3 separate regions of the Homo sapiens genome follow, and regions 2 and 3 are each linked to region 1. Evidence: fine-mapped expression QTL. A gene starts in region 1. Each other region holds a variant in brackets. All regions are shown on one strand. Distances are from middle to middle. Region 1 holds the start of HLF (HLF transcription factor, PAR bZIP family member). Region 2 overlaps STXBP4 (syntaxin binding protein 4). Region 3 overlaps STXBP4 (syntaxin binding protein 4).

The links. PIP is the estimated chance that this variant, and not a neighbour inherited with it, causes the effect.
Region 2: its variant is the best candidate, but not a certain one, in a credible set for the expression of HLF in whole blood (INTERVAL, PIP 0.56).
Region 3: its variant is the best candidate, but not a certain one, in a credible set for the expression of HLF in blood mononuclear cells (TOPMed, PIP 0.54).

The regions. Positions count from the first base shown.
Region 1 is chr17:55,259,402-55,269,563 of GRCh38, reverse strand. HLF (HLF transcription factor, PAR bZIP family member) reads right to left here and starts at 4,604. Exons shown (of 4, transcript NM_002126.5): 1 at 3,965-4,604; 2 at 1,478-1,813. The coding sequence starts at 4,079. RefSeq lists a silencer at 4,481-4,800.
Region 2 is chr17:55,117,972-55,128,133 of GRCh38, reverse strand. The region is part of intron 16 of STXBP4 (syntaxin binding protein 4); the gene reads right to left. Among named protein-coding and RNA genes, the nearest start is that of HLF, 140 kb to the left of the region's middle. The variant C/A (reference allele first, on the strand shown) is at 4,371.
Region 3 is chr17:55,092,493-55,102,654 of GRCh38, reverse strand. The region is part of intron 16 of STXBP4 (syntaxin binding protein 4); the gene reads right to left. It overlaps LOC107985002 (a long non-coding RNA gene), which reads right to left. Exons shown (of 2, transcript XR_001752943.2): 1 at 9,981-10,162; 2 at 8,462-8,849. Among named protein-coding and RNA genes, the nearest start is that of STXBP4, 130 kb to the right of the region's middle. The variant T/C (reference allele first, on the strand shown) is at 5,050.

The DNA of each region.
Region 1 (10,162 bases):
CACAGCTACAAAGTGGTGATTCTCAGTCTACAGAGCACAATGACCGAGGCATAACTGTGTCTCTCACTGGGGCTCTGTTCCCTTCTCTCCTGGCTGTTTTCCCACTTTGAAGGGTTATTCATTTTGTTGCTTGTTCCTACAAAAAAATTGAAGATAGTGGTACCGCACATTCTAAGTAGCAGGGGATCAGGATCACATAAAGGCATGTTTTCCCAAGCTCCCACAGCCTCCAGGGGTGGCTGGAGGCTAAGAATTAATTCCATTCCAGCCAGTGGCCTTGAGTTATAATTCAAAGTGAATTTTGGAGAAGGGGCCAGCACACAGAGGTCTGAAAGGAGGAACTTCAATATGAATATATCGAGGCAGGGGTATTCTCTTCCTCCTTTACATCATTTCCTTCCATTTAAATCTTGCTCCATGTGCCACAGAAATTTCTACAAGAGTCGAGGACACGGAGTTCAGTAACAATCTCTAGCACAAGTTTCGCATTGTCCTGCTTTCTGTCTTCCCCCACAGCTAAGGCCCTCAGCTCTGTGACCTTCCGGATGATTTATCTGGCTGAATCTTTGTTCCTGGTTACCTGTGCACATGAAATCGTCTTTCTTCCTGTTCATTTGGTACTACAGGGTGCTAAAGGCATGAATTCAAAGCTCCTTCAATCTGTGTTTATATCTGAGCATTAGCAGTGGGTTTTGAAGTACTGGTCATTTCAGGTGATATTTTTGTGTACTATTTCAAGATCATTTACAGCTGACCTTGCAGCCTTGTGGGCTTTGATACAGGTGGACTGAGTGTGATAGACAGATGAAAATGAAAAAAAAAAAAAGATAAGAACAGTTGGGTTTATGGGAATAGCAACGAGAGAGATGGAGTCTGGTCCTGAAGAAGGCTCAGAAACACAATATGAGAGCCTGCTTTTAGATTCTACTTCTCAGCTAATGACAAAACAAGATGAAAAGGATGGAAAAAAAAATACCTGCCCCATATCCCTACTCACATTTTTTTTCCTTCAGGACAGACAAGAGTGAATATAGGTAAACCAAACCCTATTGAGAGTCTACCTGTTATCTACGTGTTTAGGGAATGAGGAAAAGAGATACAAGATGCGATGGAGGCTTAAATTATCCAAATCATTAACTGTAAGTTATTTCTTAAACTGCAGCCCTTGGATCAGCTGCATTAGAATCCCATGGGGGAGCTGGTTAAAATGCATATTCCTGGGCCCTCATTCCAGACTTGCAAAATCAGAATTTCTAGGGGTAGATACAAAGAGTCTGTATTTACCGGACTCTCCAGATGAGTGATATGGATGCTCATTAAAGTGGGAGAGCCTCTGCCAGGAGTGGAGCAGAAGAAGGTACCTCTCTTAGGATCTTTGCTAAAACCTGAGTGTTAAGATGTTTATGCTAACTCTACCTTGCCTGTCCCATTCACCCTCCTCCTCCCTTTCTGAAGGGAGAATCTTCAGGGCACTTACCTGGTCTGATGGGGCTCTGCATACAGTTCGGAGATGGGATGCCAGGGTGAAGGGGTGCAGAGGCCCGGCTGCTGAGGTCCATGACCGAGGGGGCAGCCGAGGAAGCTGGCTGCAGCCCAGGAGGGTGAGGGCTGTGGTCATGCTGAGATGGGCTGGGGGGAATGCCATTTTCTGACAAAAACTCCTCCAGGTCCATGTATTCCAACTGGAAAGTATCTCCGTCATAGGGAAGGGTTTTGTCCCATAAGGTAGGCCCCAGGAATGCCGACTGGGGGACCGTCGGGCTGTTACTCTCATCATCCAGCTTCTTTTCCTTGTCTTTATCTTTACTAAATGCTGCAGAAGAAGGGAAAGCTGGACTTAAAAAAAAAGAAAGAAAAGAAAAACAATACCGCTCTTTTATCACTTTTCCTGGCCTGTTATAAGACTATTTCTCACGAATGGCAGGGTCCTTCTCTGGCTGCTGTCTTTTGTAGATCTAGAGTTAAAAGTTCAGGCAGGACGTGGATCTCTGCCTGTTTTTCAACATCTTCCTATTTACTTTGGAAAGAAGGCACTAGTCCTTGGGGCAGGGCTACAGGCTGATCTAGGATAAAAACCAGAGAACAGTCTCAGCACATTATTTGAGAAGAGTAATAACTTAAACCTAAAATAGGAATATAACATCTGTGATTATATACAACTGCTGTCATTTTTAAGAAAACAACAGCCAATAACCAGGCTTGAATTATCTTCCAGGAATTCATCACAGCAGCAATAGGAGGTCATTCAGACTTACAAAGCCAGTGAGTTAGTGGTCTTAATTTTGGTAAAGCAGGGACCTTCCACCCTTCTTTAACATCATGTTTAGAGTACCTACTGGATACCTGGTTCTTTCCATATATTATCTCAAAAATCTCACAATAAACTTGCAAAATAACAATTACCTCCATTTACAACAAAGACTCGGAGGCTCTGAGACTTGAGGGAACTTGACCAATGCCTCATGTTGGCAGAGAATGAGAACTTTCTGAGCTCACATGTGTTTGCTTCTAAAGCCACTGGGGCACACTGATTTTTACAAAAGGAGTTTAAAAAAATACAAAGTGTTTTCTTCCTTCTCTTCTCCAAACATTTGAGTATGATCCAATTTACAAAGAGTATGCATTTACAAAACCTTTCAAAAGCAGAGCTATTGGAAAAGGTGAGTTATTCTATACATTTATGTTGGAAGTATGCAGCTATTTGCTACCTGGAAGTACTGCTCGCCCATTAGGTCTTTAACAAGCATTCCGGATCTTGCCAATTCTAGTATTCAGTCGTGGGTGGAATCTGGGATTAAGGAATTTGCTTCTGAGTTTCATCTTCAGAGAAACACAGCCTCCACTGCCATCCATTCTAACCCTCTACCATCTCATCTGAAAATCTGACTTAAAACACCCACAGATGCAAAAGCCTGCAGGCAGCCCCTTCCTCCCAAATGCTCTTCCTTAAAGGATAGTTAGGGAGGGGTCCCTGGCTATCATCTGCAGATTGCAAACTCTTGCAATGCAACAGGTTGTCCTCTCCTAGAAAAGAAGGTGCAAGTACTCCCAAGCTATTTGTAGCCAAATAACCTTTCAGAACTTTACACTGTGAGCCGCACGGTTCGCATTTGCTACTGTGATACCGAAGGCATGAAATCGCATCAACCCAAATCCGTGGCATCACTTAGCCGGGTTTGGGGCCTCATCACACGTACCCCTCCTCTACTGCTAAGGCCAAGGTTGTCTTGGGAAGGTTTGGGACTTACCAAGAAAGGGCTCAAGCCAGAGGAGGCTCCTGCGCGGTTACACGTGAGCCTGCTCCGCTCTCCCCTCCCACCAGAAAAAGTGCACCGGGAAAGTGTCAACGCTGGAGGCGTGCACGGCTTCCCGCCGAGAGACCACTCCCCCCACCGGCCCCAGCCCCCACCCCGCTTTCTCAGCTACCCTTCACCAGAAGAAAACGAGTCTTCTCTCACACCTCGTGAGTTCCAAATACTAACCAGTAACAGAAGCTGTAACACAACCCCAAAACCCAGGCTACGCAGTGAAACCCCCTCCCTCAAGCCGACCCCCGCCCCCTGCCCCGCACAGAACCAGGCCCCAGGGTTTCTCCTCCCCAGCCCGGGAGGCTCTGCCCTCCGCAGGCGGGCTCGCTCTGCGTGCGGGTGTGCCTCGTTCTAGGGAACGATCCTGACCTGTCAAGTTACACCTCCCACCCGCGCCGCAGGAGCGGGACCCAGGGAGGCCGGGTGCCCGAAGCTCTTTTAAATGTAGCTCAGGAGGGGTCCCTCCCCTTTCATGGAGGAGGAGGAAGGGGAGGAAGGGTGCTGGGTGAGCTCCTCAATTTCATCAGCGCGGGGCCGGGGCGCCGCGGGACAGGGCGGGAGCGGGGTTGGGGGATGCTCCAGCGGGCGTGCCCGGCCGCGGAGGGGGACCCCCGGAGCGTCGTCCCTTCCCGGAGCGGGGCCGCGGCAGCGCTCACCGTCTTCGTGGTGAAGGGGGAGCTTCAGCGGGTTCTCCAGCAGGGACCTGAGCACGCCGTAGGGAGGCGGGATAAAGGTGGGATTCAGGGGGAGCGGTCGGGACATTTTCTCCATCGCGATGCACTCAAATTTTTTCCCCTTAAAAAAAGAAATAAGAAAGAAACAACCGCCCCCTAAAATGTTGCTGAGCTTTTCCTCCGTCCTTTGCCAAAAGTACTCGCTCTCAAGGCGGTGGAGAAAAGGGAAGAAAAAAATTACTTATATCTTTATAAATACATCTGCATAAAAATATATATTAAAAAAAAACTTTCGGGTTTCCAGTGCAGACGGTCCCAGGAGAGCGCGCCAAGTGCCCGCGGGCTCCCCGGCGACGTGCAGGATGCTCTCACCTGCCTCGAACCCCTCGTTTTGCAAAATGTTCAAAATTGAAAAAAAGAAAGAAAAAAAAATGTCGACGGCTGCAGAAGGGCAGAAGACACCGCGCCGACCCCAGCCCCTAGTGCCAGCACCGGAGGCGGTGCGCCGTCCCACCCCACCCCCCTCCCCGCGCCGGCGGCCGCTGCTCCCCAGCGCTCCGCGGCCCCGCAGCGCCGGGCTCAGCGCATCCGGCCGCCCATGTGCCGCGGCCCTGACAAGAGTGACGTCAGGGCCCGCACCTCGCGCCCATAGGCGTGCGGGGGCGGGGCCACGCGCGGCACCGCCCGCCTGGCCCGCTCGCCCCGCCGCCGCGTGTTTAGCGTCGCCGCTCGCGCCGATTTTCGGGGACCTTGCAGCACTGGCTGGTTGCAGGGGAGCAGGTGCCAGATTCCCTGGGCCATCAACTTAGGCTTAGATTTTTTTTTTTTTTTTTGGTCTGGGTGGGAAGAGGAATGAGAAATTTATATCCATAGTTTTCAAGCTGGGAATAACCTGAGGAGTTTTAAAAAAATCGCGATACCCAGGCCGCATCCCAGATCAATTAGATCAGAACCTCTGCGGTGCTATCAGGGCGTCCATAATTTTTAAAGCTCCCCAGGTGGTTCCAAAGAGTAGCCAAGTTTGAGATGATTGGTTTAGATCGGATGGAAGGTAACGACCCTTCTCAATATTTCTCCTGGCCCCGGCCAAGCTTAGCGTCTTCTTTCTTGCCCAGTTTCCACCACCACCAAAAAATAACTACTTCCTATAAGTCCGAATGGGATGCAAAAAGCAGAGCGGGAAGCGGAGGACTGAGCTGCTGGGCACTGTTTCCCACGCTGCAGAGAGGTGTTAACGGTGGGGGGAGAGGGGGGGTAGACATTTGCCTGAAACGGAAAGAGGCGGGAGAGACACAGACACACTGAACGGGATTTTAGGAATATTTACTCTGGGTGAATACAGGTGATTGCGCTTGGGTCAAGTTATTAGGTTTGCACGGTGATTAAAATAATTTTGTAAAGTATCCCCTAAGGGGGCTTCGGCTTTCCTTGCTGTTACAGCAGCTGCAGCGTCTCCCTCTGCCAGTTTGACCTCGTGGCACCCACGGTCCCCGAGATCTGCGTGCGACCCCCTGTGTGATAACTCCCTTCCCGCCTGGGGTGGTGCGGGCGCTGGCGTGCAGCCGCGACGCCCCCTGCAGAGCTCCGCGGGGGGCCAGGCAGGTTCTTCCCCTCCCTCCTTACCTCTCCTTACTAAGACCCTAGTCTTCGATCTGGGGAAGGGGCTGCAAGAACGAATGGGCACAAATGAAAGAAAACCGTTTTTCAGTGGGACGTAAAGGCCTTTGTGACCCCAGGCTGAGTCGCTGGGGAAGGATGTGGTGGTGTCTTGATGGGGTTTACTTCCCCAGGAGAGGGTTGTAAGAGAGGAGGCGCCTGAAACCCCAGAGATCAGGAGCGGCGGCGCAGCGGGGTTCAGAGTTCCCTGGCAGGGTGATTCCGGCAAGTGCCTTTCTGCCCTGAGCTGTAGGTTCTTCATAAAAGGACACGTAATCTAGTGACCTCTACTTCCTCACTCTAAAATTATGGCAAAAGGGTAAGGCAACATTCTAAGTGAGATGTTGTTGCAGTGTTTCAGGTTTCAGACGAATTCCAGAAACAGCAAACTTTTAGTTAATGCCACATGCATTTATTGAGCACCACGGTATGTATGCCAGCGACTATGCGGGGGCTAGTGAAAAAAGATGAATAAAACATAATTTTAACCTTCAAGAACTCATCGTTTAGGGTTTGGCATATAAGCAAATAATATAAAATAGGCTTAAAAGAACAAAAATGGATAGATGGAGGTGACAGGGGCACTTACATTATTAGGAAAGGGATTCTAGAGAAGGTGCCTGAGCTGGGCGTGGAGGTAATAGTCTCTCGTGAACGGTCTGAATCCATCAATTATATTATATTGTTTTTTTAAAAAATAAAAAAGGGACCTCATCTCCGCTATCCTTTTGGAGACAGAGGCTATTTCCCTGTCTTGAGTTCCTTACATCCCTGTAAGTCCATAAACTGGCAGGACTGAGAGCATCCTCTCAGCCTGGTTAGAAATCTGTTAGATTGCAGATTCCAGGTGCATGAAAGATGCGTTACCTAAGCTTTGTGTAACAGTCCACTGACATTACTCAGCACGCCCAAAGTGCTCCACCTGCTCATGATTCTCCGCATGTCCTCACTTCCCCATGTTTCCAGACATGAAACTCTTACCAGGTCAAGTAATCTGGTTTCCCAGGGTAATCTTCTCCTTACCACCTGACAGAACCAAATACTGTGGCTTGGAAATTGCATTTCTCATTGCAAGTGGATAAACTGGCGTTCTGGTTGATCAAGCAGTTTCTTGGGAATTTGGTTCATTTAATTTAATTTCCCTGAGCCTGATCAACATGTCACGGACCAGATTGAGGACCAGCCCCTTAGACCATGGTGACTCCCTCTCACTTCTCTCCATCCTTCTCTAACTTCAAAGGTATTTCTTAGAGCCTCAAAAATTATAAGCATTGGCTAATCTTCAATCTAGCCCCATTCCTTAACAAGATAAATGAAATTGGTACATCTTTTCTACTCTGGCCATTTGTAAATGTTATTTTCTTTTATTTTTTTAACAAACCATGAACATCTTTCTTTCTCTTTCTCTCTCTCTCTTCCCCAGAAGCAGTTGTGGATGGCTGCTCAAGAGGAAGGAGAGGGATAGAAGAAACCAAAGGTTATATTGGTTGGGTAGTAAGACCCTCTGAATTCCACAGGTTAATTCTCAAATGGACATATCCCTAATGAGCACTAACCCCAATCTGCACATATGCCCAGAGATAACTGCCGCTCACAAGTGCTTAGCACTTGTCCACTTACAGAGCCCTTCCATATGTGTCATATCACATACTTCTGACAATTCCATGAGGAAAGCAATGATGCTGATTATTGATTGCTGTGTAACAGATCACTCCAAAACCTAGTGGCTTAAAACAACAATCATTTTATTATTTCTCATTATTCTGCAATCTAGGTTAGGCTCAGCTGGGATACTGGGCTGGCTGGCCTTCTCTTTCTCTTTACATGGCCTCCTTACACCATAGATTCATTTTGCTTGTTTTATAATTTCATACAAGTGAAATCATACTGTATATACTCTCTTGTGTGTAGCTTCTTTCACTCTGCACAGTATTTTAGACATTCACCAATGTTGCATATAGTTCATTTCTTTATATTAGTGAGTAGTATTCCGCTCTATGAATATACAAAAGTTTATCTGTTGTATTGGTGGACATTTGGGTTGTTTCCAGTTTTTAGGCATGAATAAAATGTTTATGAGAATTCTTGTCTGAGTTCTTTTGTGAACACATGCTTTCCTTTCTCTTGGATAAACAAATAGGAGTAGGATTACTGGATCATAGAAAAGATGTGTGTTTTACTTTAGAAGAAGCTCTTCTATAGTCTTCTGAAGCAGGTAAATTGTCCTGCATTTCCAGCAGCAGTATATGAGAGTTCTGGTTGTTCTAGCGCCTCACCAATATTTAGTGGTGTCAGTTTCTCTTAAAACTTGTAGCCATTCTAGTGGGTGGATAGTCAGTTCTCAATGGACCTTTCATCTGAATTTTCCTGATGAAAAATGATGGCATGTGCTACTTCATGTGCTTCTTAGTAGCTTGTACATCTTCCTGTTCAAGTCTCTTGCCCATTTTTGAATTTGGTTATCTTTTGATTACTGAATTTTAGGAGTTCTTTTATATACTTTGGATAGTCTCTTTGTCAGATGTTTGTGTGTTGTGAATATTTTCTTCCAATCTGTGGCTTGCTGATTAGTTTTTATAATAACGTCTTTCCATGAGCAGTTTTTAATTTTGACAAAGTTCAATTTATCAATTTGTTTTTCATGATTATTGCTTGCTATGAACTAGGAAACTTTTGACTACTCCTGAGTTCTGGAGATATTCTCCTATACTTTCCTTTATAACTTTCATAGTTTAAGCTTTTTCATTTAGCCTTATGACCCATTTCAAATTAATTTTTGTGTATACTATGAGGTAAGGATTAAGGTTGGTTTTACTCATGGGGATATCCAATTGTTTTAGACTTTCATTTCCCCCTTGAATTGTTTGTTGTTGTTGTTTGTTTTGTTTTGTTTTGAGATGGAGTCTCGCTCTTGTTGCCCAGACTGGAGTGCAATGGCGTGATCTCAGCTCACCGCAACCTCCGCCTCCTAGGTTCAAGCAATTCTCCTGCCTCAGCCTCCTGAGTAGCTGGGATTACAGGCACCAGCCGCCACATCCGGCAATTTTTATTAGTATTTTTAGTAGCGATGGGGTATTAGTATTTAGTATTAATATTTTTAGTAGCGACGGGGTTCTCCATGTTGGCCAGGCTGGTCTCGAACTCCCGACCTCAGGTGATCCGTGGACCTTGGCTTCCCAGAGTGCTGGGATTACAGGCGTGAGCCACCGCGCCCGGCCCCCCCTTGAATTCTTTTGATGTTATTGCTGACAATTATTTGACTGTGTATTTGTGGGTGACCCAAACTTTTGATCCCGAGGAAAAATGGGTATTTTATCACTAAGGACAGAATAATGCTATTTCTATGTTCTTTCTAAGTTTCCTGGGATCTGATTCATATCCAGCAACAGAAAAAAGTTCACCAAAGTTTACGGCTAAAATGAATGCCTCACTTTCAGTGGCTCATTCAGTTTGTTGACAAGACCTCTACAAAGTTGTCCACATTAAGTTAGATAAGAGCCAAAAGCAGAGGCATTATCCAATTTGCTTTTTTGTGTATGAGCAAATAATTAAGCCTATTGGATGTCTTTGGTTACAACTAGTAATGCCTCAGTGCTCCTGTCTTAACCTGCATGTGCTTAAACAGTAAGTCAAAACTAAACCTCTTTGTTAGAGAAATTCGAACAAACAAATACTAGATAAAGAACATTTGACAAGCCACTGAAAAACCCTTCAGTTGGCCCTTCAAGGAGAAAGGAATAGCAGAAGCTCTGGAGGTTTAAAACTGTCCTAAAAATAGGAATGACCATAGAAGAAACGTTCCCCAGAATCAACTTCTTAAAGGATGCCAGCACAGCTCTCCTCTGAAGTTCTGGAAATCAGCCTTTTGCCCAGCCAGTGGTTGCCACCTGTCCTGTCATTTCAGAGGTTTTGATAGTGAGATTGGGTGGGGAGTCCTTTGTGCAGCCCGGTGGGGGCAGACGTGAGGCAGCCATTTTGGCACCAGCCTTGCAGGTCTGCAGAGAGAACTTTGCAGTGTAAGCAGTGTTTATGTTTCAGATTCCCAGTGGGTGTGAAGCCTTGTTGAGCACACAATGCCTGCCACTGTAGCCTACTTGGGGCTAGGAGCCTGGGGTGGATGGAGACGAGCACTGTGGTTATGAAGGGCTTTATAGTCTAGTGAGCCAAACCTCTGGATGAACCTGTTTATCTCGTTGTCAGAAAGGGTACTTTATCCAGGGAATTAATTCAGAAGTGAAAGGCATCACGTGGGAGTTAGGCTAGATATGCCTAACCCAGGCTTCTTCCTTCTCTCCTTCCTGAAACCTCTAACTCAGCTAAAGCACCAAAAAGGAAAATTATATCTAATTAGCTTAACTACTGGAGACCCTCAAATCTCTTCACTTGGTGTAGGATCATGGAAACCAAAACAATAAAACATTTGTTGGGAATGCCAAGCCCTCCTCTGAGACTGACTTATGTAAAGGAGCATGAGTCCTTCCCTGTGCTTTCCTTGAGGCTTCCCCGTCCTTTCCCTGAGCCCTG
Region 2 (10,162 bases), 140 kb after region 1:
TGATTTAGTGAATCTTGCACATATTTGAAATTTTACTGTTGTTATGAGGTCTTTGTACTCACCAGGGGAACTTATAAATATTTGTACAACTGTTATTTGTGGATTTTGACAACAGGGTAAGGAGGATCAATAGACATACAATTTTAGAAATGCTGTCACAGACTAGATGAAATGAAGTCAAGATCATTGCTGTTTCCGACCTTGAATATAAATGAACATACATAATGAAACTCTAAACACCACTGATCCCTAATCATGTAGCATTTGTTGTTATTATCTTTGTCCTTTAAATTAAAAAAAGTTTATCTGAAAATCTGTTAACAATCTCACATTACTTTCAGGTAAAATGTGGAAAAAAATCATAAAAAATCCCTGAAGACATTTGCCTTTAAGAGGATGCTTGAAAATTTTAAATGTGTTTTTAAAAAGATTTAAAGAAAAACAATAAAAACACCTTCATAGAGGGTTATTTTTTCAAATAATAGCTCTCATGAAGTTAGATAACTCAATAATCATTACATTAAAGAGTTATAAACTTAAATAAAAGTGACCCCAATTTTGCTTTTTCTCTTCTGCAAAGAATATAGGTTCTGACTGTATAGTTTATCACTCAAAAAATTTAATCATTTAAATCCATCCATGGATGGATTAACATATGTCAATCCATGTTTTCAATAATCTTGAAAGACCATTGAAAACATGCATCCCCAGAAAGTCACATCCTTGAATGTTCACAACAGTTTTATTCATACTAGCTCCAAATTGAAAACAATTGGAAGATCCATCAATTGGTGACTGGATAAACTGTGGCATAACAATATAATGGAATACCACTCAACATTACGCATACAAGGATGAATCTCAAAAGCCCTACACTGAGTGGAAGAAGCTAGAAACTTAATAGTCTATTTATTCCACATTTCAGAAAAGGCAAAACTACAGTGATAGAAAGCAAATCAAGGGCTGCCTGGGACAAGGGATGGCAGGGAATAGATTACAAAGGAGCACATGGAAAGGTTGTGAGGTGATGGAAATATTCTAGGGCATGATGGTGGTAGTATAATGCAGCTGTCTACATTTGTCAAAACTCAGTGAATTGTACACTTACATTTTATTGTATGTAAATTATATCTCAATTTTAAAAAGCAGGGGAAATATCCTGAACCAGTAGTATGTGCAATCCCATTAAAAAAGCTGCAGTATGAGAAATCCCATTACAAAATGGCTGCAATCTTCCTTTCATCTTTATGCTGTGTCAGTCCCACTTAATGTCATCCACTGAGTTATTTCCTGGAGCATGCTATAGACTTCTTTTCGTCTCTGCTTTTCCAGATACTGTTCCTTCTACCTGCAATGCTCATCACTATGGAATATAGAAACCCAGTAAGCACTTTGGAATGATTTCAGAGACAACAGTCACGCACCAGAATCTCCTTGTCTAGCTGTTAGCAGGTCTTTGATTTAGGGATTTCTTCAGTTGGGAGATCTATCCAGAAATTCTTTCTTTTGATGTAAAATTTGCTTACAATGAAATGTACAAATCTTAAGTGTATATTTACTGAATTTTCACAAATGCTTACACCTGTGCAACCCAAACCCCAATCATGGTATAGAATATTACCACCACCCCAGAAATATCCCATTCCTGTTTATTTCTACTTCTGTGCCCCAAGAGGCAGCCAACTGTTCTGATTTTTTAAAAGGTATTATACTTTTAGCATTTCCATTTAGTTTTACACAATTATTTCTATTTCTCTGCTTAGAGATCTTCTCTTTCCATTCATTATGAGCATGTTTTCCTTCGCTTCATTGCATGTAGGTATAACAAGCACTTTAAAGTCCTTATTTTAACATCTGGTCTTTTGGAGGTTGGCATCTGTTGACTGTCTTTTCTCTTGAGAATGAGTTACATTTTCCTGTTTTTTGTTTTCACACTGAGTAATTTGGGATTGTTTTCTGGAAATTATAAACATTATACTGTAAAAACTCTGGATTCTGTTACACTACTCTGAAGCATGTTAATCTTTTTGTTTTGGCAGGTCATTTAGTTGGTTGGACTCAAGCAGTAAGTTCTATTTCTTAGGCAGCAGCTAAAACCTCAGTTCAGTTTCCCTCCCCATTCCCCTTTGCTGGGTGGTTTGCAATGCGCCCTATATTTGTGTAGTTTGGGGTCAGACCCAGAAGCTTGGACAGAGTTTATATGCAGAATTTGGGGGTCTCTGTCTCCAGTGCTCTTCTTTCCGGGATTTCCCCTCTGCCTTTCCAGTTGTCCCAAACTTCATATGCTAGTTCTATAGGCCAGAAAGACTGCAAGTTATCAGTTTTACCACTCTAAGTGTCCTGCTAGGGTTTGGAGTAGAGTGAGGCAAGTAGTGTCTACATACAAAATTTAAGGAAACACCCTCCCTCAGGCTCATGCAAGTTCAGGGTCACTACTTGAGACTGAGCCTCCTTAAGAGGGAGGTGCACCCAGGGTACCTTGTTGCCTTATCCTAGTCCCAGCCCTGGGTCCTGCCAACAATCTAAAAGTAGGACAAACAGGAAACTTATCCTATGTTGGGTCCTTCTTCCAAGTTTTGACAGATCTCCAGAATTTGCCTGGTCATATTCACTTTCCAGAAGCTTCAATTGTATTTTTTTTTTTTTTTTTTTTTGTATTTTGTCCAGGGTTTACAATAGGTTTCTGCAGGATGGTTAGTCTGTCAGGAACTTACTTAGCCTTACTGGAAGTGGAACTCTCAGATGCATAGAATTTTTGAGTGAAAAGAGATTTTAGAAATCCTCTAATTGTCTCATGTTACAAATTGGATACTGACACCAAAAATGGTTTCAGAGCTTTGCCATAGAGTCAATTAGAGGAAAACATAGTAATCTAACTTCTACTTTAGTCATCATCCACTATGTCATTCTGCAATAATGCTGAATGAAAAGAGCAGCTTCTGTGCAGAGTATAAAATGCTGCACTCAGACCTTTCTTTCACACATGAATAAATTGTACGTTAACTTTCAATGATTAATTACCACCTGCTTAACAGTTTAGTATTGGTATAAACTGAATGTTTCTGTCCTCTAAAAATTCTTATGGTAAAGCTCTCACCCCTGCTATATGGCTGCATTTGTAGGTGTGGCCTTTAAGGAAGTAATAAGGTTGAATGAGGTCATAAAGAGTAGGACCTTGATTCCACAAAGTTAGTGTCCTCAGAAGAACAGGGACAAGAGCCACCCCACCCCTCCTCTGTGTGCATGTACAAAGAAGGGTCATGTGAAGACACAGCAAGATGGCAGTCACCTACAAGCCAAGAGAAGAGATCTCGAATGAAGCTTACGCTTACTTTTCCACCACCTTGATCTTGGACTTCTAGTCTCCAGAATTGTGAGAAATAAAATTTTGTTGTTTAAGCCTCTCAGGCTGTGATATTTTGTTATGGCAGCCTGAGCAAATACAGCAATAAAAATGGATCCAAATTTTGCACACTGTTAAATCAACTTACTTGACAGAATTACTTCAGTCTGACTACACTGTAAAGGTAAACTCATATTCTTCTCTAAAAGAGGTTGAACTCAGAAAAACAAAATCTACCAATCAATGCAGTAAAAAATAAATTTGAAGGATAAATGTAGCACTTGAAGCAGATCCATTGTGAGGCTGGAAGGCAAACAGTGTTTCTAAAACCATTTAATCTCATTGTATTCCCTACCTTATTTTTAAAATGTTTATATATAACTATTAATAAATATCACAGTCTATTCTGCAAATGCCTTTAAAGGGTCATGCCTTCCAAAACAGCATGTAAACAGGTACCATGCAAAAGTAAGGCCTGAACACATATCTTTTATTTGCAGACTAAGCTTTCTGATCCATCATGAACCTCTGCTCATCTTTTCTCAATTTGCACATCTTCCAACCTCACAGCCTGTCTTATCATTTGGACCTCCATCTCATTCTCCCAAGTCCCCATATAATGCTGTTTTCCTATTTCTTCTCATGGTGTCATGGGGCCTCACTGTCCCTTTTACCTAAACACCCTTGATAAGATCTTTCCATGGTGACTGGCTTGGGACCTTCTTGTCATATCTTAGGCTGACACAATCCAGCATAGCCTAGATTTATAGCAACCAATCATTATCAAATAAAAGGTATTAATAGAAATTAGGAGGTGTTAAGTACAGTTAGAAGTGTATTATGCATTAGAGTTTCAAGTCATATTTCTCGTTTTATCTTCTTTTTTTTTTTTGAGACTGAGTCTTGCTTTGTCGCCAGGTTGGAGTGCCGTGGTGCAATCTCGGCTCACTGCAACCTCTGCCTCCTGGGTTCAAGCGATTCTCCTGCCTCAGCCTACCAAGTAGCTGGGACTATAGGCGCGGGCCAC[C/A]ATGCTTGGCTAATTTTTTGTATTTTTAGTAGAGACGGGGTTTCACTGTCTTAGCCAGGATGGTCTCGATCTCCTGACCTTATGATCTGCCCGCCTCAGCCTCCCAAAGTGCTGGGATTACAGGCATGAGCCACCGCACCTGGCCCATCCTATTCTATTTGTCGTTGTTGTTGCTCATTGCTGCTTGCTGTTGCAGTCAGATATAGTCCATTATTGTAACGTTAGAACACAATATTTAATTTCTACATTGCAACTCTTTTATCTCTTCTCTTCGTCTGGCAGCACTTAGTAAAGAAACCTATATAACAAGAAGCTAGGAAATATGAGAATTATCTCTCATTTGACCAGTGATAGTAATTTCTGATTAATTCAGGAAAAAAACCTGCATGCAATTATAAATAGTCCATTTTTATTTCGACATATTGATTTGGTTTAATTGATGCAGTCCATCATACCAAGTAAGCCAGACACCAATTCTGCTACCTCTTCCCTTAAATTTTCCCCTTTATTGAATTATCTTAACAAGTTACTGGACACACACACACAAAAGCTGCTATGTTTAGGGATCCTGATATGAAAAGTACTTTGGCAAGAACTTATCTAACTACTAGGTTAGATCTTGGGGTTCTCTGGGCAAATCAAGTTTTGAGATTAAAATTTGAGCATACTTTTCTTCTTAAAATTGTGTGTCTGCTTTAACTGATGACAAAAAAGGAGAGGGATAACACATTTACAAGGAATATAAACTCCCATAAATGTGAATAAAACAAAGGAGGAATTAGCAAAATCTCTAAAAGATTTTCTAATTAAAAAATTTGGTTTTCTACTTTTAAGTACACTTTGATTTGAGATAATGTTCTTTAAGGATATATTTTAATGACTGGATAAAATACTTGTAACTCAAAACTTTATTTATAAAAGAGTGCTTCAAAAGCACTTAAAAGTTTCTTCTTTTACTTTAATCCCCTTATAATTTTAATATTTTAATCTGCTTTGGAAGTCATCCATTAGCACACATAGACACATATCTCAATATGTAAGTTGACAATCTAAACTTTTGAGTGCTTCTTGTTATAATTTTTATAAATTCAAACTAGATGGAATTTAAATGGACTGCTTTCTATTAATTATAAAATTAACTGCATGGAGTAAAATCTGAATTCATTTTTAAATATAGCCATATCTGATATAAAGTAAACATAAAATGTTCCAACTCAACTTTTTGCTTTTGCCAGTGTAGACCACATTCCTTCATTTATCTCTGCATTTGTACAATATAGACTCCATTCCTTCATTTATCTCTTCCTAGAGTTACTCTTTCTTTTCATCTGCCTTGTGAGCTTCTGCTCATCAATCTAGAATCAGCTTAGATGATACTTCCTCTGTGCATACTCTCCTAATTTCTTTGGCTGACTTCATCTTCCCCTCCTCTATGGTACTTCTGTGGTTTGTACCAGTTTCTATCACAGCACTTAACATTCTCCTGTGGAAAACATGATTGTGGACAATGACTATGTTTTATCCATCTTTGTGTCATTTTCTGGTACACAGCTCAGGCTTTGGTGCATAATAAACGTTTAACAACGGTTTGTTGAGGATTTATGTCCCAAGAAGTAAGACATCTTCAACATTTTTTAAAAAGCAATATTGTCTGGAGGGATTTAGAAAAAAATGTGGCATATTAGTTAGGAATGATTTCTGGTAAAAATGACAGATAACCCAAGTAGCTGGGAAAACAAATAGGTATTTATTTTTAAGGAGCCTAAAGGTTGCTAGACACAGCATGAAGGTCTCAGGTTTTTTCATCTTTCTACTCTAGTATCCTTTAGGTGTTAAGTGGCTGATCCCTACACATTTCGTCTTGGGGGCGTAAAAAGCCCCCAGTGCTATAGGCAACATATTCGTATTGAAGGCAGGAAAGAACAAGAGGTGGTCCCAGCTCCATCTGTCCTTATCCATTAATTAAAAGTTTCCCCAAGCAGAAGTTTCTAAGCAGACTTTACTTTATAACTCATTGACCAGAACTGGGGTGGGTGGCCACTCTGTGAGGCAGGCTACCCCTGAGAGGGCAACTGTCTGACTTTACAGTTTCTAATACAACAGGCTGGCTAGGGCAAAACACCAAGTCTGCCATAGATTACAAAAACAAAAACAAAAAGACAACAGAAGAGTGGATTAAGGTTAATTAAGATATTAAGGTTACCAGGTTTGTTGAAATAAGTATGTCAGAGACCCTGGGGATTCTAGGGTATCAGCACAATTGGGTACATAGTTAATAATTCACAGAGATATTTTCTCAAGATTGTGGTTGCTCATAATGACATAATGAGATGTTTCAATCTTGCATCTCATCTCTCTCTCAGTGTGTTTTTCAATTATGACAGTTTTCCTTTATCTCCCATTCACCCCAACCTCACTTTGGTTCCATCACTGCCATTCAAAATTTCTCAGAGTCAAACATTAAATGTTTCATTCTCTATAAATGCTTTCTTGATTTTAAAATATTTTTTCTCATTTATCTGAGCTATTAGCTCTTTGTACCATTCATAAAATACTTAATATCTTAAACTTTGCATTACAATAGTTTTCACAACTCTTTTACTCCTCTCTTCCCACAGACTGCTAGCTCTTTGAGGGTACTGAATCTTCCTCAGTCATACTAGGTTCTGAAAAATTATTTTCCGAATTGAATATTTAATTCATTTCATTTGCTTAGTGTTAGAAGGAAGGAAATGGGAGGAAAAACCAGCATGTATAAACACAGGGCCACTGCTAGCCTATGTTTATGTTGCAAAAACTAAAGAAAAAAATTCCATCATGTGTTGAAAATGGCACCACTTCTGTGTGCAAGGGCTAGAACATAGTGCCTCCTTTGAGCTGATGCAACTCTGAGGGCATGGAACTTGTAGGGCTAATGTTCCTTCTGTGCAAATTACTTAAAAAAAAAACACTCTTTCTTCTAGGAAACACAGTCCTGTACCAGAGCATCCAGTTGAGTGAACACAGCAAGGGCTGGATTTCAGTCTCCAATGCACTCCCTTGACCTCTGCTTATTGCACAAAATACTCAATGCTCTGCAGCAGCCATTTAGAAAAGATTTCAGAAGTTCCATTTTTACCCAGTATGTCTACAAGTATTTTGTGATTTCTCCAGGCTCTGTTTGTAATGATGGTAAACTTGGAGCTTCATATTTTTGAATGGGTCTAATTGTCCAAGATACTTGCTCACAATTGAGCCAAAATTTGTCTTCCTATTTTTCCTATCTGATGACCTCAGACTTCTGATGCTAGATATAATAATCATGTCTCAAAGCAGTGTACATATCTCTGGCAGGAAGCTGCCTCCTAAGCAACACATAATAGAATGGAATGTAATTATTTATAGGTAGGTACTACCAACACTGTATTTGGTTATCCAACATTTGTGTGAACGTGATGTGGGCTCACTTGCCATCCCATACGGCTCACTGACAATTTGACTATTAAATATGGAATTTTAATTTGAAAACATTATTGATAAAAAACAAATGCTTGCAGCTAAATGTATAGAACAATAAAGACTGACATTTAAAAGGTAGCAGTATTAAAAATCACTCTTTCTCATGTCCTCTAAGCATCTTGGGAAAGGCTTGAAATTAAGTTTAAAGAGGATTTCAGAAAATAAGGGAAGAACACCTTTAACTTATAATATTTTCTACTTGAGAAGTACACTTTAGTAACCTTAACTGTGGCTATATGTTAACAATAAAGGTGGGATTATAATGATTTTATGTGATGTGTCATCAAATACATTTTAAAACGTTTTCTGTATAATTAAAGCAAAGAAATACAAAGGCTAGCTATAGAAACACAATATGCATATGGTTAGAAAATTCAAAATATCCAAAGACTCATTTTTTTGTTTGAGGTATTTAAATATCAGAAGCATGAAAGGAAAGGAATTAACTAATATTGTAAGATTTCATTTATTCAATGATAACTTATTAATACATTTTGGTAAAGAACATAAACTGAGTTAAAGTTTATCTGTATTAGATACAGTAGAAGATTTACTGTCAGTGTCATATGCTTATGGATATATTTTTATTTTATATACTTATATATTTTTAAATCAAAACACATAAATATATATTCATTTTCCAATCTTTTTTAGGTCAAAGTCTTGTCTTTGTTGACTGACTTCTGATTAGTGTTCTGTATTGTTCTTCTAGTTCTAGGGTTCTTGTATTGTTCAGAAATCATACTAAAAATATATCAGCTCTCATTTCCAGATGGGGTTTCTTTAAAGTGGATTGAGAATTAAGAATGGTTATAAAATAATCCAAGGGCAGAATCCTTCTAGACTTCTATAATTTTCTCCCAATCTTTCACAGATGACTCCTTTACAATCCATCAGTAGTATTAACTCACCATTATCAGATCTCTCTAAAGCATTCTACTTAGTTTTTGTAGAAACAACTTTTTCTTTGCATATTCATATAACTAATTTATAATAAGCACAAATGGCACCAATCCTTTTGAAAATAAAAATGATATTTTTTAACTGGTAGCAGTTTAAGTCCATGGTAGTACCAGGGAGAGGCTTCTTAGGCACAAGCCCATGGGCATCAATGTGCTTTATAGCGAGAATGGATGAGTTGGCTAATCTGGCAAGTGGGTTAAAAATAGAGATCAGTTAGGAGATATACCTAATGTAAATGACGAGTTAATGGGTGCAGCACACCAACATGGCACATGTATACGTATGTAACAAACCTATACATTGTGCACATGTAACCTAGAACTTAAAGTATAATAAAATATTTATATATATATATATATAAATCAGTTAATACAGCTTCCACTTTTTGGAGAAAGTGGTTCTAAAAAATACTAATGGTGATGGAGTCTTTTATAATTTATTGAGAAAATTTTAAAAAATTACTATCAGGACAGTTACTTAACTACTGAAAAGCACATGTATTTAAAGCCATTTTTCTTGGTTTCTATAATAGTACATTTGCCTAATTTTCCTTCTATCTTTCTGAACACTCCTTTTTAGTCCAGTTTCTTCTTTCAATAGACCTCTAAAGGTTCCTAGTGTTAAGTCTTGGATCCTCTTTATTTCCCTACATGTACTTTCCTCCTAGGTGATCTCACCACTTTCATAGCTTTAAAAACCATATATATGCTAAAGATTCTTACATTTATTTCTCCATCCCAGCCCTTTCTTTTGACTCCAGACTGGTATAGACAACTTGCCAATAACATCTTGACTTAAATGTTTCACAGGCAACTTATACTTAATTTTTTCCAAAGTTAAGTTTTAATTTATTTCTCAAAAGCTGATCCTGTCTGCAATCCTCCTCGTTATAATAAGTAAATCTGTTCTGGCCTCCTTTCATTTCTTTGAGTAGGCAGCTCTTTGCTTCAGTCTGGAATGCTTTCTCCTTAACTCATTAGATGGTTGGCTCCTACTCATCTTTCAAATCTTAACTTAAATCTTACTATGAAGACAGACTTTTCTTGTCCTTCCTCCATTTCTATCAGAGCAACATGTTCACTACAGTCACAGCACTTCCTCAGTTTGAAATTATATATATATTGATTTTCCTGTTTATTGTTTGCTTTTCCAACTTAAATCATAAGCTCTATAAAGGTAGGGATCATGTCTGTTTCATCCATCCTTGCATACTATGGGCCTAGCAAAATGCGTGACATATCATAGGCCCTCAAAAATGTTTGCTGAATAAATAAGTAGTGTTTTAGTTTTGCTCTTTAGAACACTTACCACTATATGTAATTACATCAGTA
Region 3 (10,162 bases), 170 kb after region 1:
CAATCCCATTACTGCGTATATACCCAAAGGATTATAAATCATTCTACTATAAAGACACATATACACATATGTTTACTGCAGCACTGTTCACAATAGCAAAGACTTGGAACCAATCGAAATGCCCATCAATGATAGACTGGATAAAGAAAATATCGCACATATACACCATGGAATACTATGCAGCCATAAAAAAAGATGAGTTCATGCCCTTTGCTGAGACATGGATGAAGCTGGAAACCATCATTCTCAGCAAACTAACACAGGAACAGAAAACCAAACACTGCATGTTCTCACTTATAAGTGGGAGTTAAACAACGAGAACACATGGACACAGGGAGGGAAACATCACACACTAGGGCCTGTCTTGGGGTGGAGGGCTGGGGGAGGGATAGCATTAGGAGAAATACCTAATGTAGATAACGGGTTGATGGCTGCAGCAAACCACCATGGCATGTGTATACCCATGTAACAACACTGCAAATTCTGTACATGTATCCCAGAGCTTAAAGTATAAAAAAAAAAAAATGAGAGTTCACAAATTGCTAGTAACGAGATACAATGTACCAGGCATTCAACAGGAATAAATAATGCTAAAACTGTTTTCATCATGGGTGTACAAAGAAGGAAGCTAAAAATAAATGAAGAAAAAGATAAAGGCATTTCATTTTCAATTATTGTCGTTATAAAAACATTTGTACTTTTATGTGATGCAAAGATAGAGAACACAGACATAACAAATGAGTCCATTATGTCAGTATCATTTGGAATCAGACAAGCTTTTGGCATTTACTAACTCTGAACATGTCTCAAACAAAACTATATACAACTCTGTAGATCGAGAAAAAATAAAGAGAACTATGAAGTAATCAGAATTCACATTAGGTTTTTAAAGCTCCTTTTATTTACAAAAGCAGTTCACTCATGTCTGTATTCTCATGGTTCATTCATGCTTCCTTGTACATAAATAAATATCATGTATGCTTTTTCATTCCCAAAAGTCTAAGAAGGAAATGTGCTACAGCAAAGGGTGAATTTCCCTCTTTCTTATTGAATGCATGGATGAGATAACTTAATGAGGAATTCATTCATTAATCATTGAGTATCAACTATGTGTCAAGCACCATGATAGGTACTAGAAGTGTTAAGCTGAATGAGACAACATCAGATGGTAAGGAGGGAGAGCTATTTCTCTCAGGAAGATTCATAGTGGTATTTCTAATACAACAGCTGCTGTTTGGTTCTGGAGGCTGGTGTCTTAATTAAGATGGTAAAAAATCACCCTTCTAATTCCCCCAAATTTCTTTTGATTAGATAGAAAAGTGTCAAAGGGGTAGGGAGGGTGTTTATCTCTCATAAGGAGTCTGAAGAGTGCCTAAAAGCCCTAAGAATGTAATTTGTATCCCTTATTCCAACAGAAGAATATTTTTTATTCCAGGAAAAATTCTAGCCTTGCCACTGTGAAGGTCATTTTCCCACTGGGAAGACAGAGGCAAATGGCAATAGTTTATGGTGTTAATTTATATTGTGGTGTAACAAACTACCACACATATAGCAGCATAAACAATACATGTATATTATCTCATGGTTTCTGTAGGACAGGAGTCTGGACATGGCTTAGCTGAGTCCTCTGCTTAGGATCTCATAAGGCTTCAATCTACAGGTTGAGCATGGCTGTGGTCTCATCTGAGGCTTGACTGGGGAGCACTGAAGGATTCATCCGGAGACTGTCCTCAGCTCCTTGTCATGAGTCTCCTAACATAGCAGCTCATGTCTTTGAAGCCAGTAAAGAGTGCAAGATTCCAGCAAAATTGGCACTAAAATCTCATGCAATATAGTCATGTACAACCTGTGACTTTGCTGTATTGTATAGTTACAAGCAAATCACAGGTCTCAAACATACTCCAAGGGAGAGGATCACACAAAGGCATGAACATCAGGAAACAGGAATCATGGAAACCACCCAAAGAGTCTGTCCAACACAACACTTAGACTCTTCCCCTTTATATTACCTTTAAAAACCAAGTCTTCTACTTTGTCATTACTGCTTTAAATGTAGTTCTTCTCACCTTTATTTTTCAAAGTTTAAGTTAATCCTGGCCTTAACTTCCCTAACACTATGTGTAAAAGTTTTTGTTAGTTCTAGGTTGTTTCTTTGTCCATCTTTTGTATATTTGTTTAAACATGTAAGTTCATCAAAGAATTCTGTGAAGCTTCCCTTGATTTACTTGAGTACTTTCACGCTTTTTCCTTATTGAGGCTATAAGTAATTGTACACGGTAGTGTTAACCTTTTAGGATTTCTTACCCTACAAGCTACGTTCCCATCCACAGTCTCTAAACATGATAATAAATTCATTTTAGCCAAGTTTAAAACAAAACAAGACAAAACAAAACTGTGCCCATGGAGTCTGTAATATATATCCAGATATGTACATAATTAAACAATCACACCCTCTTTAGTATCTTTTGGTAGAAATACAATTCCAGCAGATAATAAAATAGTTGCAGTGCTTCAGTATTGCAACAGGTTGGCAGGCACTAATGATCCACTTTCAGAAGGCATCATTCATGCTCCTTTTATGCCTGGGCTGGTTGAGGTTCACTCTAATGGTTTTACTTTAGTTTCTCCCTTTTTTCATCTCTCATGCTCATTATGGTGTATCATCCTCACTCATAGTCATGACTTTCTGTACAGGAAACTTTGTCTGTAGTCTTATTCCCCTTCTATAAGGTGTGTTGCTCTGAAAAAAAGGTATAATCTTCGACAGAAATATTTTAATCAGAAAGTCTCAGCAGATGGTACGTGGTACCTACTTAGGATCTATATACACAAGAGTTGATTCTGTTCTTCCTCCAAGTTTTACCTACTTCAATACCGAGCTTCAGCTGCTTGCTTTGTACTAAAGGACATTAGCAAAGCTGGCCTATGTTCTTAGTGCCTGATAAATTGTATTCAACAAATATTTGTGGAAAGAATAGACTATTTGAGATCTATTTGTACATGCAAGTAGGTAGAGTCATGCACTGTATAACCATGTTTCAGTCAATGACAGACCACATTTGTAGCAGTGATCCCATAGGATAATAATACTGTATTTTTGCTGTACCTTTCCCATGTTTAGATACACAAATACTTAGCATTATGTTATAATTGCATACAGTATTCAGTACAGTTTCTGCTATACATACTTGAAGCCTAGGATCAATAGGCTATATGCCATATAGCCTAAGTAGATAGTAGGCTATACCACCTAGGTTTGTTTGAATACAATATGATATTTGCACAATGATGACATTGCCTAATGATGTATTCTCAGAATATATCCTTGTCATTAACCAATACATCATTATAATCTTTATATTTATGCATATAAATGGGTATTTCTGTATAGACTTCGGAAGTGAAACTGAAGCGTCAAAAAATGTACATTTAGATTCCTAGAGACACAGTTAGACTGCGCTCCAAAAAAGCTGAATCGAGTAAACAACTATTAACAGTGTATGAGTATGCTGGTTTCCTCACATATTTACTAACACTATAGATGACCAATCATTGTTAATATATGGCACTCTGGTGAATAAAAATGGTGCCTCATTGTTTTAAGTTCATTCCTAAGTAAATGAAATTAAAATATATATATTCAACATTCATCTGTTAAATATTAAATGTGCTTACTAAACAGATATTAAGCACAATAAAAAATATGAGTGTCTCTTGAATATGTGCCAGGTACCAGGCACTGTTCTAGGTGTTAGCTAATTGTGGTAAAGAAGACGTTCAAGATCACTGTTCTCAAGAAGCTTACATTTTACTAAAGGAGGTAGAAAATAAACAAGTAAACAAACAAAAAATAAAGTGCTGTGAAGAGAATAAAACAGGGGAGTGAAATAGAGTACTGGAGGTGGAGAGAAGGTCAACATTAGACAGGTGATTAGGTAAGGCCTTTCTGATAGTAGGCAATTAAACTGAGGGCTTAACGACAGAATGAACTGGACCTCTCAATCCAAACTATCCTCTTTGCTTTTCTCAAACACATCAGGCACACTCCTGCCTCAGGGCCTTTCCACTTGCTGTTCCCTCTGTCTGGAACACTTTTCCTTCAGAGAGCTATATGGCTTACTCCTGCCTCACATGGATGAAATGCCTGTGAATATCTAGTTTATGGGTTTGCAGAGAGCTACTGGGTATTTAGACCTCATTCCTATGCAATTTTAGTATTTCCATTTTCTAAACAAGTTCAGCAAGGCCTCCTTCATTCCATATATAAGACTGTATGAAATGTTTCCAGAGGGCCTTTGAGGCTGCTAGTTAGACATAAACTTCTTTATTATTTCAATCTTTATATCCATTAAGTAAATTTGAGTTGAAGACTGGTTTCCTACCCAAAATTACTGCCACTTGAAAGCATGAAATGTTACTTTGCAATTGCTTTCCAGGGTTTTAGCACACGGTTTCTCACGTGTTCTCAGAGAAGTAATGTAACGATAGATCATATAAATCGACATTAGTAGAAATTGTTCATTATCTTCCAGGGTTTCCAGTTCTCAAAAAAAAGGAGGTGCGGAAGAGAATGGTTTAAGGCTGTAAGGACAAAATAATCCTTTTACACAATGACAATGAACAAAGAAGATTATAATGATGATGATGATAATGGTGATATTAAGTACCTACCAGATGTGAGCCATAATATTTTCAATGAGCTGGCCACTTCAGATACATTAGCTTTAATCCTCAGGACAACCCTATGGATTGGTGATATCTCCATCTTCATAGATGAAAAAAAATGAGACTCAGCCAGCTTATAGAATTCTCAAAGCCAAATCTATTATGCCATAGAGTTGGCATTGGAACCTTATAGCGTATGATCTTTTCACTACTCTGCTTCTCTACAAGTAAAAATGAATCTACTTTTTTGATAAAAATAGAATTAGGGTGTGAACTAATTTATTTCATTTATCTGTAGTAAAAACTACAGGCAATTTTTTTTTTTTTGAGATGGAGTCTTGCTCTGTTGCCCAGGCTGGAGTGCAGTGGCACAACCTCAGCTCA[T/C]TGCAAGCTCCGCCTCCCGGGTTCATGCCATTCTCCTGCCTCAGCCTCCTGAGTAGCTGATACTACAGGCACCCGCCACCACGCCCAGCTAATTTTTTATATTTTTAGTAGAGACGGGGTTTCACCGTGTTAGCCAGGATGGTCTCGATCTCCTGACCTCGTGATCCGCCCGCCTTGGCCCCCCAAAGTGCTGGGATTACAGGCATGAGCCACCGCGCCCGGTCAACTACAGGCAATTTTTTACAAATGTTACTTTATTTTTATCCTATAATGCTTAGAGACAAATACATCATTTTTACCATTTTATAAATGGGGCAAAAGTGAGGTTGAATAATTTACTTAAGGTTGTAAAATAACTTGTCTAAGAAGCAAGTTTTCTCACTCTGAATATTTTCCCTATTCTACTTTTGACTTTAACTTTCATTAGATTCTGCAGTTATTATAAAAGAAATGAGAAACACAAATAGCACTGTGTAGTCCCAAGAACTAATTGCTTTATAATTTTTATCAATAATGCTGGTTGGATAAGGTCTCACATTTTCAGAAAAAAAATATTAAAGATTCAGTTGTTGACTTTACATCTTCATTTTTTTTCATTCAACAAAGATTTATTATTTATTTATTATGAGGTCAGCACAGTGTTTGTCACTAAAGATGCAAAGCAGTTTAGGACAAAATTCAGTGAGAAGAAAAACATACAAATAGATAATTACAAGGCAATATGAAAAGAGCAATAATACAGGTTTGAGCAAAGAGCTATTAACTCTGTCTGGAGGTTTAAGCTCACTTTATGGAGGAGTGCATCCCCAGTTTTAAGGTCTTTACCTAGGAACATTTATTATTACCTTTTTATGTATTGTTACGCAAATAGTCCCAAAGAGAGCTTTTGTTTCTTACTGTGAGATCTCCATGATGCTTAAAAATTCTTTTACTTAAAAAAATAAGCTTTAAAGTTCAGCAGTAACAAATGCTTATTCTTAAAAAAAAAAAAAAGCAATATGAAAGTTTCCAATAAAAAAACAGATAATCTCCCAATCCTATCTCCTGAGAAAATCAATGTTATCAATGAGGGAGATATCTTATAGCAGATTGAAAACTACTAAAGCTTCTTGAGGCAATGCAATCTATTGCTTTATCCTGAATATTTGTAAGTCATGAAAATTAGGTAAGATGAGGTATATTTTATTGAATGATTCGAATTAAAATAAAAAGTGAACTCTAAAACATAAACTCCAGCCTGGACAACATGGCAAAATCCCATCTCTACAAAAAATACCAAAAAATTAGCTAGGCGTGGTGGTGTGTGCCTGCAGTTCCAGCTACTTAGGAGGCTGAGGTGGGAGGATCACCTGAGCCAGGGAGATTGAGGCTGCAGTGAGCTGTGATCACACCACTGCACTCCAGCATGGGCAACAGCATGAACCTTGTCTAAAAACACAAAACAAAACAAAACCCAAACACACAAAACCCCCATAAACCTATAGTTACAGAGCAAAACACTTTCATAGTAGGTCACTTAATCCTTGAGAAAATCATATGAAGACTGTACCCTGACTTCAGAGACAGGAAGCGAATACTCAGAGAGGTCATCATATTTCACCAAATCTAAGGTGCCATCAATTATAACACACCATGCTATTTCATATACTTTAAAAGAGAAAAAAATAATTACCAGTTCAATTGTGACATCATGTCTTAACTATATTTCTATGAGACTCACAGGATTTATTAGGAACCCTGGACAGAGAATTAGAAGACCTGAATTATGATTCTGACATTGTCCTTTCCAAACTTGTGACTTAAGTAAATCATTAAGTTCTATGAGCTTTGATCTTTCCATATAGTTTAAATTAAAAAGAATAATGTCTCTCTCACAGGGTTGCTGTGAGGACATATTAATATAAAACAGAACTTTAGAACTGCAAAACTGATAAAAATTTAAAACCTTCTATGTCAATGTTATTTTTAAAAATATTACCTGCAACAGTAATATTAATACTCTGTTGTTGAAGGCAGGAACTGAACTTCTGGATCTGAATTGAACTATTTTATCATGATAAATAATTATGAAGACTGTTACTGCACACATTTTAGTACTGCTGCCTTTTCTGAGATGAGCTGTTAATACTTTGTCCTCATGTGAACTCTGGAAAATACCTATTCCACTAACCCAAAATAAGGCATTCAGTTTGGAAGAGGAGATTTTCAGGCCTTGCGGGAGGATGTTTCTTTCTGGCATCATTTACATTTTGTTTGTCCAGTTATAGGACTGAAACACACACTATACTTTAGGCATTCTATCATTATAGTCAGTTCTAATTGTGAAAGGAATCAGAGTTTCATCTTTTGAAAAAGTGATAATTGACTATATTTTACCACTCATGCCTTCTACAATCTTAGAAGCAGTCCTTGCATTTTTTCTGCCTTTGTGCTTGAAACCATTTAATGTGATAGACTGTTCACCATGTTAGTAGTAAGGTATATAGATTTTACTTGATTAAGTACTAGATAGTACACATCCTGCAATCCCCTTGACAACTACTATATTCCTGCCTGTAGTGAGAATTAAGTCTTGCTTGTCTAGCTGTGCCTTCATATCTTAATGCTATCGGTATGTGATTAAAGTATCACAGAAACCTGAAATAGTTTCTTGGAAATGATCTTCTGTGAAAACTCACAATATGTGGGAGCTTTGGGATTGATTCACACTAGATATTTGTTTTTGTATGTTAAACACTAGGAACATCATGGCTTCCTGATTTTTATGACTGAAGAACTGTCTATGTTTGCTTCCTGTGTACCAATACAGATTAGTAGATTGCTGCTATGTATCTGGTGGTATTAAAGAATTTCAGCGCTTTTTAAGGAATTTGTTTGATGAAAAAAGCAAATATCCAATAGTTGATTAGTGCAGAGAAGGCACAATAGAAAAACATGGGGTAGTCTAAGATCCAAGATGACAGCAGATCTGTCTGTGCTACCGGACTTTTTTTTACTCATTGAAACAATATGCACATGAATAGGAAAGTTTAAAAATTAACACCGAATTTCAGGCGTTCCAAAAAGTTATACATGCTGACACACTACTAATCCTTTTTAAAAAATAAATATTTGTTAGCTGTTACTTCAAACTGAGCCCAAGTTACCACCATCTCCCACCTCAATCACTGCAATAGCCACCTAGTCTTCCTGCTTTCTTCACTCTTGCTACTCTTAGAGCCCAGTTTTAAACAAACACCCAAAGGATCTTTTAAAATGTAGACCATATCATGTTACTCCTTGTGCCTTCCTACGACACTTAAAATAAAATCCAAACTCCTTAGTATGGTGTTCAAAGCCTTGTATTATCTGGCTTCTTGCTACATATCCACCCTTATCGCATGCTGTTCTCCTGCTTGCTCATACGTATTAGATACACTGGCTTTTTTTTTTTTTTTTTTCCTGTCCCTCAAGTATGTCAAGTTTGTTCCTATCTCACAGCATTTGTACTGGGCCTGAAAGGTCCTTCCCATAGTTTTTGTTCCTGGCTGAGTCTGGGATGCAATGTTACCTCTTCAAAGAAGACTTATTTGTCAATTAATCTAATGTAGCATCTCCACTTACTCATCTTTCCTAATACATAATCTGGTTTTATTATGTGCATAACACTCATCACTGTCTACAATTACGTTTTCTATTTATTTGTGAACTTGCTTGTCCATCTCTGCCCACTACAATTTACCTAAGCAGCTTGATAGCAAGGGCCTTGTTTGTGTTGTTATCCTAGGGTCTGGCCCATTGTAGACACTCAACAAATAGTTCTGGAAGGAAGGAAATAATGAATGTAAATCATTACCTTTTCTTAAGCGATATGTTTTTCTCTTTAACTCATTTTTTCTGGAAATAAAATTGTACTAGGAAAAGAATTATTTCTCTTGTTGCTGGCAATAATTTGCCAACTTAAAACTCCCAAGATTAAATTTGATATATTTTCTTAATGGAACCTTACAACAGTGACCTACTTTCAGTTTGAAACAACACAGGAGAATATGTGAGTTCGCCATTTCCTTGAATGGCAAAATGCCACAAATATTTGTTGTGGTTATTATCTGGCTTTGAATAATCAAGTCACCAGAGAACAGGGCTGTTTTACAAAAACAGGTAAAATTTCTCTCAAGTGACACAGAATCATATAATAAGCTATTATCTAATGCTTGGAACATCACCCCAATTCTAGGAGAAGAAATAGCATAATTACTTTGTGTAGAGGAAAATACCATAATGTCCATTCTAAATATTAATAGTATAGCTGACTTTCATTAAAGAAACACAGTTTTGGCTGGGTGCGGTGACTCATGCCTATTATCCCAGCACTTTGGGAGGCCGAGGGGGGCAGATCACTTGTGTGTGTTCAAGACCAGCCGGGCCAATGTGGCAAAACCCATCTCTACTAAGAATACAAAACTTAGCTGGGCATGGTGGAGTACACCTGTAATCCCAGCTACTTGGGAAGCTGAGGCACGAGAATCGCTTGAACCCAGGAGGCAGAGGTTGCAGTGAGCCGAGATTGCGCCACTGCACTCCAGCTTGGGCAATAGAGAGAGACCCTGTCTCCAAAAAACAAAAAACAAAAAACAAACAAAAAACAAAAAACAAAAAAAATGTTTTTTTGTTTAATAAATTCATGCTTCTTAATAAATATATGCTCTGGGGGAAATGAGGAAAAGAATGATGAATGTCTGAGGTCCAGAATAAGTAGAATGAGAAGACGCCATATCAAGTCTAAGCTTTAGCTCCTAAAGAAGGGAAGAATTTAAAAGATAAATCCCATCAAGGCCTTTAAAATGTTACAGTACTGCCTTTCCCCTTTTTCTCATAAAACCTTTTCTAATCTGCTTAAGTAACTTCTAATTAGCTTCAGATGTAACAGAAAAAAGGCAGCTACTACTCACATTCTTCTTAAAAGGTAATATATTGCTGATTTCAGATAGGAACATCTGAAGTGATGCAGGAGACTTGCACAGACAAATACATGCAATCAGATGGTCACTGCTTGACAGTCTTATTTTTCAATTGGTTGAGTAAAAATAACATAGTTATTGAATCAACCTGTAAAAGTTGAACATCCATTTCT